3 linked regions of the Homo sapiens genome follow. The protein of the gene in region 2 interacts with the protein of the main gene of each other region in a pairwise test. Each region holds a gene or a part of one and is shown on either strand. Other genes may lie near its edges. The genes, in order: APOD, ERGIC3 and GPM6B.

Region 1 (3,023 bases), on a different chromosome or scaffold from region 2:
TCCCAACAACCTTTGAGAATGGACGCTGCATCCAGGCCAACTACTCACTAATGGAAAACGGAAAGATCAAAGTGTTAAACCAGGAGTTGAGGTGAGTGGCTGTGGGCGTCCGGGGCCAGGCCTGCGGAGTGCTGATGCAGAGTGACTGGGTGTCCGGCAGCCTGGGTCAGGGAGGATGGGAACCTTGCTGGATCGGGACTGCCTGCTCCTAGCAGGAATTGAGAGGAAAGCGTTTGGCAGGCAAGGATGGCAAGGACTAGGATCCACTTATGCATTTCCATGACCACCTGCGGGGCACAAACTGACAGGGTTCCTGCACTCACTGCAAAATAGATACTCTGGTAGCAAAGAACATCAAGACCATCTCTTCTGACCTCCAGTCTGGGAGAGAAGCCGCTTCGACACCATCTGCTGACAGAAGCATCCAGCTTTGTTCAAACACTTCCAGGAACTGGGAGCTCATCGCCTTCCAGGACAGTTCATCCCATCTCTGGGCAGCTTAATCTATCAGAAAGCTCCTTTTCTTATTAAGCAAGAATCACATACACAACATTCACACTCTAGGTTATGTAAACAGGATATCCTTTAGAAGTGTACATTTCTATTACTGAGGGCTTCTAACACAATAATTAATCCAAAAAGCTACGCTTTGGAAAGCAACTATAAACTTAAAAAGAGCCCCAGGAAGAGCTCCTTCCTACCCACCTTCCACTCTTGAAAATACAAATGCAGTTTTTCCATGAACATGTTGTGACTTCATGGTCAGAGACTGGTGTCCTGAAAACCGTTCTAGAGCAAAATGCAATTGACGGTGAAAAGGGCAGAATCTGCTGGGAGGAGACTGGTTTGTTGCTAAGTTAACGTATGCAGATAGAAACAGACCATCTTCCCCAGCTGTCTGAGATCCAGATGAGAGAGGAGGGCACGGTCTCCAGCTTTACATGGTGATAAACAGAGAAAGTACTTGGGAACATCAGAGCACAGTTCCCAGAATCCCTGGCCTGTTGCTCATTGTCCTGTTTCTAGGACATCCGTCACCACTAACCATAGCATTAACCTACTGACTTTCTTTTTTTTTTTTAATTGTATTTTAGTAGAGACGGGGTTTCACTGTGTTGGCCAGGCTGGTCTTGATCTCCTGACCTTGTGATCCGCCCCCCCTTGGCCTCCCAAAGTGCTGGGATTACAGGCGTGAGCCACCACGCCCGGCCAACCTACTGACTTTCTAACACATACGACTGCTCTAATTTCAGTTGGCCTCCCTGCTCTGCCTTGAGGATTGATAAACAGACATCCTCTCCTCTGTTGGCTTCCTAGGAAGAGCACCCTGATGCCTTAGCACCCTCCCTTTGGTGCCTCCATCTCCACACCTTTCCCCTTCTCCCAAGTTCATGGGGCCATTGGGAGTCATCTAGAAAGCAGGCTCATTCAAAGAGGTGAAAGTATTGCATCCAATCTAAGCCCCCAGCTTTTAAGACACACCACTGCGTTATATGCCACTAAGAAAGGAATGACACTGCTAATTGTCAGGTGACATCAATTGTGAGATATGCATTTCTTCACATTTAATGTCTCTGAAATCTGGGCATACCTGAGAATCACTGAGATAAAGTAAATGTTTCTTCACTGCCTCCTTTTACTTGGCCTACATTGAAATCCCCCACACTCACTCAGAGGCTTGCTGAACTAGAGGGAGTCTCTGGACTCAGGCCCCTTGATGGGACAGGCGATGTCACATGATATCACTGAGGCCCAAAGAAGGGGAACGCTTTTATGTCTCCTTGTTTTGAATTATTTTCAGTGATCAAGTCCATCCTCATCTGTACCTTTGGCCCTTCTCGTTTTAAAAAGAAGTGAATCTGCCAGGCACGGCGGCTCACGCCTGTAATCCCAGCACTTTGGGAGGCTGAGGCAGGTAGATTGCCTGAGGTCAGGAGTTTGAGACCAGCCTGGCTAACATGGTGAAACCCCGTCTCTACTAAAGATACAAAAAATTAGCCAGGCGTGGTGGTGCATGCCTGTAATCTCAGCTCCTGGGGAGGCTGAGGGAGGAGAATTGCTTGAACCGGGGAGGCAGAGGTTGCAGTAAGCCGAGATCGCACCACTGCACTCCAGCCTGGGGGACAGAGCAAGACTCCATCTCCAAAAAAAAAAAAAAGTGAATCTTCTTTGTGTGTTGGGTTGTTTTGTTTGTTTTTCCATTCTCTTTTCTCCCTTTCTTTGGAGACTGGGAGCAGGAATTGGTCTTTCAGGCCATAGAAGATAGTCAGAGATAGTGTTGAAGTGCAAGGGCCTAACATACTGTCCCATCCTGGAGCTTGTCAATTGCGGCTTCTTATCACCCCGCTGCTCTCTTCCCCTGCTTGGCCTCAGAGACAGTCACAAGGGAAAGGCCAGGCCATGGAGCTAGGGTCTAGCCTGCCTTTGAGAGCCTCTCTTACCAGAAATCACGGTGTTGGCTGCCACGGTCCTTAGTGGCACAAATCTTGCCTTTCGTTGCTTATTGGCTTTCAATGAGTTGTTTTTCTTTTCTCTTTTCGTTTTTTGTATTTTTTCTTTTTTTAACTCACTGCAGAGCTGATGGAACTGTGAATCAAATCGAAGGTGAAGCCACCCCAGTTAACCTCACAGAGCCTGCCAAGCTGGAAGTTAAGTTTTCCTGGTGTAAGTATCCACTTTTCCCAGGAGGATTCAGGGACAGGAAATATGCAAACTGAAGGCTAGCGCCCCGGCTTGGAGAATTCCTGAGACACCTGAGTGTCATCTATAATCACTCAGCACATAATTATCTGTCAAACACTTACTACATGTCACGCACTAGGGTTGCCATGATGAGCCGGACAGAGCTGGCCTTGGTACTTATGGAGCTCACATCCCAGTGTGGATACTGACACGTGACCCCGCAATTTACTATAACTAGCTAGCGTTTCAACAGGTGAAACACAAGTAGGTGCACACCGGGTGTGGGCTGCAGAAGACACAACCCAGTCTTGTTTCCCAAAGGAAACTGGGGCCCGAAACAT
Region 2 (3,184 bases):
GAGGGCAGGTGGGGGTGGGAGGCTTGGTTGCTGCCTTCATTTCCTTGTAGGAACATCCTGGGATGGGGTAGTGCATATGGAAAAATACACCACGTTCTGAATGGGGATCCAGCCTGAGGGTTAAGCGAGAGTGACTTTTGAACTGAACTCTGAGCAGGCTAGGGGCAAGATTGGGGTTGGATAAGAGCATCCTAGACAGACAGAGCCTCAGCGCAAGGTCAGGCGGGAGCATGGCCCTTCTAAGGAACTGCGGGGCAGGTGTGGATGGGTGAGGCTGGAGAAGTCGGCAGGGACCAGACCACACCGGACTCAGAGGCCACGCTGAGGAATCACATCTTTCTCATGAGAACAGTGGAAAGCTGTTGGCCTTCTTTAAGCAGGATCACGACATAATCAGATTTGCATTTTAGGAAAGATCCTTCTAGTGTCTGAGGCTGATACACAAGGGAGCAGGAAGGGAGTGTATCTGGGGGTTCACAGCCTCCAGCCTAGGCCTCCAGGCAAAGCCAGCACCTGCTACTCTGTGTGCCTAACGTACAAGTGAAGCTGGTATTTTAAGAAATCTGGAACCTGGCCAGGCATGGTGGCTCATGCTTGTAATCCCAGCTACTCAGGAGGCTGAGGCAAGAGAATCGCTTGAATAAGGCGAGGCTGCAGTGAGCCAAGATCATGCCACTGCTCTCCAGCCTGGGCAACAGAGTGAGACCTTGTCTCAAAAAAAAAAAAAAAAAAGAAAAATCTGGAACCCCAGGAGTTTGCAGGCTGTGGAAGGAGGAGTTTCTAGGCAGGGAATGGGGGATTCTTATCTCGGGGAGGTTGTCCCCTTAGGACCATAGCCTCCCCTTCCTCCCACATCTCCGCAGACGGACCCAGGTGTCCCTGTCTGCTACTGTCATCAGAGCTTTGGATGAGCTCTGGATGGTGTTGTTTACAGATCAACATGACCCACTACATCCAGCACCTGTCATTTGGGGAGGACTATCCAGGCATTGTGAACCCCCTGGACCACACCAATGTCACTGCGCCCCAAGGTACCAGCCCGGGAGGCAGCCCCCAGCCGCAGAAGGCCGGCCGGGCACCCATACCCAGTGCTTTGTTTTCCCCTCAGCCTCCATGATGTTCCAGTACTTTGTGAAGGTGGTGCCCACTGTGTACATGAAGGTGGACGGAGAGGTGAGTCAGGGAGCTCCCTACCAGAGTCTCCTGCGCGGTGCCAAGCACTGGAGTTCCTGCATTTCGTTCCGTCAGCCTGGGGAGTGAAAGCTGCCTCGTCCTCACATGGCGAATAAAAGACTGAGGCACAGAGAGGGTGGGGGATTTGCCCTCCCAGGCAGAGTGCAGGCCTGGGGCTGTTAGATTTAAAGCGCCTGCTCTTTCTGCTGCCCTCACCGCTTCTATCCGTTCCTCCGGTGCCCACCGTCTGCCTGCCTCACTGTTCTCTGTGGTCTGCCTGGGCTGGGGGTTAGGCAAGGCAAGTCTCTGTGTACCCGCTCCCAAGGCTGCCCTGGCCTGTGGAGCAGCATCTCAGCAGAGTGGCAGGATGCGAGGGGCTGAGGGCAGAGGAAGTCAGGTCAGCCTTGGTGCGTCTTTGGAGAGCTGCTTCTCAGCCTGGACCCCCGTGAGAACACCCACCAAATGCTGCCAGGATAGGTAAACTGTAAAGACTTGGCACCTGGAGGGGAAGGCTGAGGCCAAGACTAGGAGAGGGGGTCTGGCGGGCCAGGCCTTGCAGTGCAGGCCACTAGCACGGTGCTGTGTTCTCTCCTTACACGGCCAAGGCTCAACAGGAAAGGGGAAGGAGCAGGGGTGGGGCTGATGGTGGCTGGAGCCAGGTCCTAGCCCTAGCCCTGGCCCAGGCTCCCCTCCCACCCCAGGTACTGAGGACAAATCAGTTCTCTGTGACCAGACATGAGAAGGTTGCCAATGGGCTGTTGGGCGACCAAGGCCTTCCCGGAGTCTTCGTCCTCTATGAGCTCTCGCCCATGATGGTGAAGCTGACGGAGAAGCACAGGTGAGGATGGGGGCAAAGCGGCCTCTGGGGGCCTGGGCCTGAGGGAGGAGGATGCCTGCTGAGCCCACCCTCTCCTTCTACCAGGTCCTTCACCCACTTCCTGACAGGTGTGTGCGCCATCATTGGGGGCATGTTCACAGGTAAGAGGCCCAGGGCGTCTGTGAGCTGTGGGGTGGGGAGGGTAAAGCCTGGGTGCCCCAGGTTTGGTTGGGGGTGAAGGGGCAGATGCTGGCCTGGCCAGTTAAGTGACAAGGCTCTCAGCGTCAAAAGCCAAGGCCCCCACTGGGCCAGTGCCAGCCCTTGTCTCTCTCCCAGTGGCTGGACTCATCGATTCGCTCATCTACCACTCAGCACGAGCCATCCAGAAGAAAATTGATCTAGGGAAGACAACGTAGTCACCCTCGGTGCTTCCTCTGTCTCCTCTTTCTCCCTGGCCTGTGGTTGTCCCCCAGCCTCTGCCACCCTCCACCTCCTCGGTCAGCCCCAGCCCCAGGTTGATAAATCTATTGATTGATTGTGATAGTACTCACTGGTCTCCGTGTGATCCTTGCCATGGCCAGAGCCTCATCCTGGCCACTCATTGAAGGCAATTGTGACTGACAGATCGGGGCCCAGAGCCCTCGGGAGCCCCACATGGGCATCCCCTAGTTAACCGGGGTTTATTCAAACCAGGTTCATGTCCAGCCCACAGCCCTGTCCTGGGTCCCTCCTCCACTGTGGTCCTCAGGCCTCTCGGGTTCAGCCCCAGGGCTCAGATGGACCTTTTCAGCGTGAGCTTCCTGGAGCCACCATGGCCCCCAGGCTCATGAGTGATCAACCCCAGGCCACTAATTCAGGGCCCTGAGTGCATATTGGGGCTTGCCACTTCTTCATTGATGGGTAAAGCTGGGGCCGCTCTCCGCCACCCTGGGCTCAATACACCTGATCCTGTCACACTCACTGATCCCACTCTGTGCCAAACCCCACGCTGGCTCTCACTGCAGAGAGGAATCCCTCCAGGTCCTCTGCAGTCTAGATGGAAGCAAAACTGAACACTGAGGTGCGAAAGTAGCAGTCAGTGGCCATTCTGGAGCAGGGCCAGCACCAGACCCCTGGCTTGGAGCCTAATCAGGGTTTCCCATTAGAACTCTGGATCCATGTGGAGAACCAGGGCCCAGCAACCTCACCAGTCCA
Region 3 (3,655 bases), on a different chromosome or scaffold from region 2:
GTTTCTGTGAGCCTCTGGTCACATCATTTTCAGCAACCTATCAACACATAAGCTTGTTTCGTGTGTTTCTGTGTAAATACACCGTATTTAATATATATTGTTGATTCCTTAATATTGAATTCATGGCCAATAGCTCTATCCCTATGCCTGAATGAAGCTTCTCTAATGAACATTTTCTCTGGTCAGGCAGTTTGCAACCTTCTTGCACTTAGGGACTCTAGACAGCACTGCAGCACTATGCTTGGGAGCCATTTTAAGCAGCAAAATCACCCACAAAATGCACAAAAATGTGAAAAACGTGGCACTAAATATACTTCGAGTATACTTATTTACAGTCTGAGAGCTGAAACAAGAAGGCAGAGTATTGCCTTGTTCAGCCTCAGCTGGGAATGTGCATACCGGGCAACTCAACTTTCACCGCTCTGCACATGTCTGCTAATAACTGCGAAAGAAGTGCCTCAAGTATTAAGGATTACAAATGAATCTTAGCAAGTAGGCAGTCACAAATGTGGAATCTACAAGTAATGAAAATCAACTGTATAAATACACGCTCTTATGTATGTATGTTTGTATACATGTAATTTTGGAGGGCTTGGTTTGTGATTTCAGGAAAACCAACTAAGATTGGTAGAGCAAGGGAAAAATCTCAGCTGCTTGTAAATTATTCATTCCCAGTTTTTCTGACCATTAAATCCCCTTAGAATCTATGAAAAAAACCACCTTTAAAATCATGGGGTGACCTGTTCTTTTGGTTGAGCAACAGGGAGGAAAGATAACTGCCTGCTGCTGAGCAGGTGGTTTTGGAAAGATGAGAGGATTAAGGCATTTAGCTTCATCCTTCTCATGCTGTTGACCCAGCTCTCTGTCTTGTTATTCTTGAAACGCATCCAAGTCCTTTTAGTAAACTCACTGAGGGCAGAACCAATGACTTACATTGTACATGTGTGATGAGAAAAAGTTTGTGTGTGCTAGATAGGAAAATTGTCTGTTGTGATTTTAAGTGGGAAAAAAACACCTTAGACTATGAGCAGGCACCCGTCCCCACCCAAGTTTAGAAGTGTCATGGCATCGGCCCTCACTGCCTGTATCTTACTGTCCTGTTTTGTTCTCTTCCACCAGCTGATCTACATGATGGCTACTACATATAACTATGCGGTTTTGAAGTTTAAGAGTCGGGAAGATTGCTGCACTAAATTCTAAATTGCATAAGGAGTTTTAGAGAGCTATGCTCTGTAGCATGAAATATCACTGACACTCCAGACTAAAGCAGAGTCTAGGTTTCTGCAATTTTGTTACAGTAATTTGTAAATAGCTTTAGTAAACTCACCTTGCATGGTAGATTAATAAGATGACTTACTGTACATGAATTACACAATAATGAGATCTGGTGGCTATTTCCACATTTTGAAAAGGATTCAGTTATTTACTGACAGTGGTGAGCATCCTTTTTAAAATAATGTTCTCATACTTAAACATTAGAGAGCAGTATCTTTAAATGAATTATTAACACTTTGGAATACTTACATTTTCTGTTATTTTTGATTGCCTGATAACCAGTTTCAATGATGAAAATGAAAACAAGTGCTGAAGATGAAATGGAAGAGAACCGTTTTAATCTGGATTTTGTTTTGTCACACCTGGAAAATACTTTGCAAATATGTTCTAAATTGAAAACAATTTTTTTATGATCACATGGTTCACTACCAAATGACCCTCAAATAAGCCAGATGAAAATTTGAAGAAAAAGGTCACCCAGTTCTCTGGAAAAAAAAAAAAAAAAAAAAAAAAAAGGATTTATATGTGGGTAGTTTTTTTTTTGGTACAACACAATCATTCTGTTAGAGCCCACAAAATTGGTAACCTTAAATTGTGTGTTTTGGTAAGTAATAACTAACTGTTTCCTCATAGCTAGTTCTCAAGCTGCATGTAAGATTTTAACGGGAAGAGAAAATAGGCCTGGACCTGAAGGTCTCAAATATGTTGAGAAGAAAGTATGAACTATAAGGAACTTGAGATGTAGATTTATTTTGCAGGAAATACGAGGAAAATAGGAAAGAAGTGTTTGCCGCATCAAGTGTAAAGAATGATACTGAGGATTTTTACATTTTATGAAATGAAATAATGGCATTTACAAAATGAAAAATGTAGTTTCACAACTAAGTTTTGTTAACAGAGACTGCATGCTTTGCTTATAGTTCTTAATTTTGGTTTTGACATTCATTTAATTTTTTCCATGTTAAATATGTAGTTTAATTATTTACTCAAAATAAACATTGTTCATGCTTTTAGGCCTTTGGGGGAATTGATTTTTATCCACAGGTAGAAAATGGTCTTTGCACACACTACACTTATTTCAAATATACAATGTGCTCCCGAACTTTCGCATTAGTCTTTAAAATTACTCTCAAAATGGTATTAAAAAAAAAAAAAAAAGCACCCTCTCGTATTTCATTTTTGCTTTTTCTTAACAATACCTTTGGCCATTTTTTTCCAGTTCACTATGTTTGTATACTAACTTTTCTTCAGCCTTTTAATGCGAAGCCAACTAGTAGAGCATGCTTTCAGGATCTGACAGCTCTGCTAGTAGAGCGAGTATTTATTAATACAGAATTAACCTTCGCCCCTTTAAAGTCAAGTCTGTCTAATCTAACTAGCGCCTCGCTTTGCCTTCTCACAATGCTCACTAGCCATCATGCTCACCCTTCTCTTCCAGATCCACTTCCTCATGATACTGTCTTCTAACTGGGCTTACTTAAAGGATGCGAGCAAAATGCAGGCTTACCAGGATATCAAAGCAAAGGAAGAACAGGAACTGCAAGATATCCAGTCTCGGTCAAAAGAACAACTCAATTCTTACACATAAATGTTTGCCAGAGTGTTTCGGCCGACGTATTTACAGCTCTGACAAATCATCAGACAGCTGCTCTGCAGTACAGATGTGTATCCCACCAAACTAATGTAGATGTACAAACACTTCACTGTCTGTCTCAAGCTGCTGGGATGTATCTCTAGGAAAACCTTCCAGTGGGTAAATCTTTTTCTTTAGAACAAATATTGGAGGTTTCATGTTAGCCATTTTAAAAGGCAACACTTTGACAAAATGATCGTTCATACTTTGGGAATTTGTGGCATGTTCACATTTATTGCTAGGGCAATTCTACCAAGACACTCAATGGAATATGTCACACTCCTTAATAGGGACCTGTGACTCCTTAATAAGGACCTGTGACATGCCCAGCATCAAGGGATAAGACCGTAAATTCACATATATGCCATCTGTCCTCAAGTGTTATCTACATAGGAAATAAAATGGAATTGATGTAAAGTTCCATTTCTGACAGCTGACATTTATTAAACTTTGGATCAAAGATAATGTGATTCTTATGATTGATTTCTCAAACTAGCTTTTCCCTCCCAAGTCCAGGACCCATTAATTTCCTGAGCCAATCAGAAATATATTTTTCAATAATGCTAAAATTAGCTACAATTCTGCTGACCCTACTATTAAAGAATCTGGATGCTGGACTCACTGACAAGCTTTCCAGAAGCAATTTTATAACAGATTTCATTTTAACAAAATACTGATCCAATTTTCATTATTCTTGAGAAATGTCAGCTTTGCCTTAATGAGTATTTGCTTTAAATTTCTAAGAAT

The links.
Region 1: the proteins of ERGIC3 (region 2) and APOD interact in binary tests that used the Homo sapiens proteins (3 or more experiments, as listed by UniProt).
Region 3: the proteins of ERGIC3 (region 2) and GPM6B interact in binary tests that used the Homo sapiens proteins (3 or more experiments, as listed by UniProt).

What each region holds. Positions count from the first base shown.
Region 1 is NC_000003.12:195,570,918-195,573,940, reverse strand, and holds part of APOD (apolipoprotein D precursor), read left to right. Parts: coding exon 1-91; intron 92-2,575; coding exon 2,576-2,664; intron 2,665-3,023. UniProt on the Homo sapiens protein: APOD occurs in the macromolecular complex with lecithin-cholesterol acyltransferase. It is probably involved in the transport and binding of bilin. Appears to be able to transport a variety of ligands in a number of different contexts.
Region 2 is NC_000020.11:35,555,099-35,558,282, forward strand, and holds the end of ERGIC3 (endoplasmic reticulum-Golgi intermediate compartment protein 3), read left to right. Parts: intron 1-934; coding exon 935-1,031; intron 1,032-1,108; coding exon 1,109-1,173; intron 1,174-1,874; coding exon 1,875-2,011; intron 2,012-2,095; coding exon 2,096-2,151; intron 2,152-2,326; coding exon 2,327-2,406; 3' UTR 2,407-2,536; downstream 2,537-3,184. UniProt on the Homo sapiens protein: Possible role in transport between endoplasmic reticulum and Golgi. Positively regulates trafficking of the secretory proteins SERPINA1/alpha1-antitrypsin and HP/haptoglobin.
Region 3 is NC_000023.11:13,772,089-13,775,743, reverse strand, and holds part of GPM6B (neuronal membrane glycoprotein M6-b), read left to right. Parts: intron 1-1,119; coding exon of another isoform or gene 1,120-1,200; exon of another isoform or gene 1,201-2,713; coding exon 2,714-2,863; 3' UTR 2,864-3,655. UniProt on the Homo sapiens protein: May be involved in neural development. Involved in regulation of osteoblast function and bone formation. Involved in matrix vesicle release by osteoblasts; this function seems to involve maintenance of the actin cytoskeleton.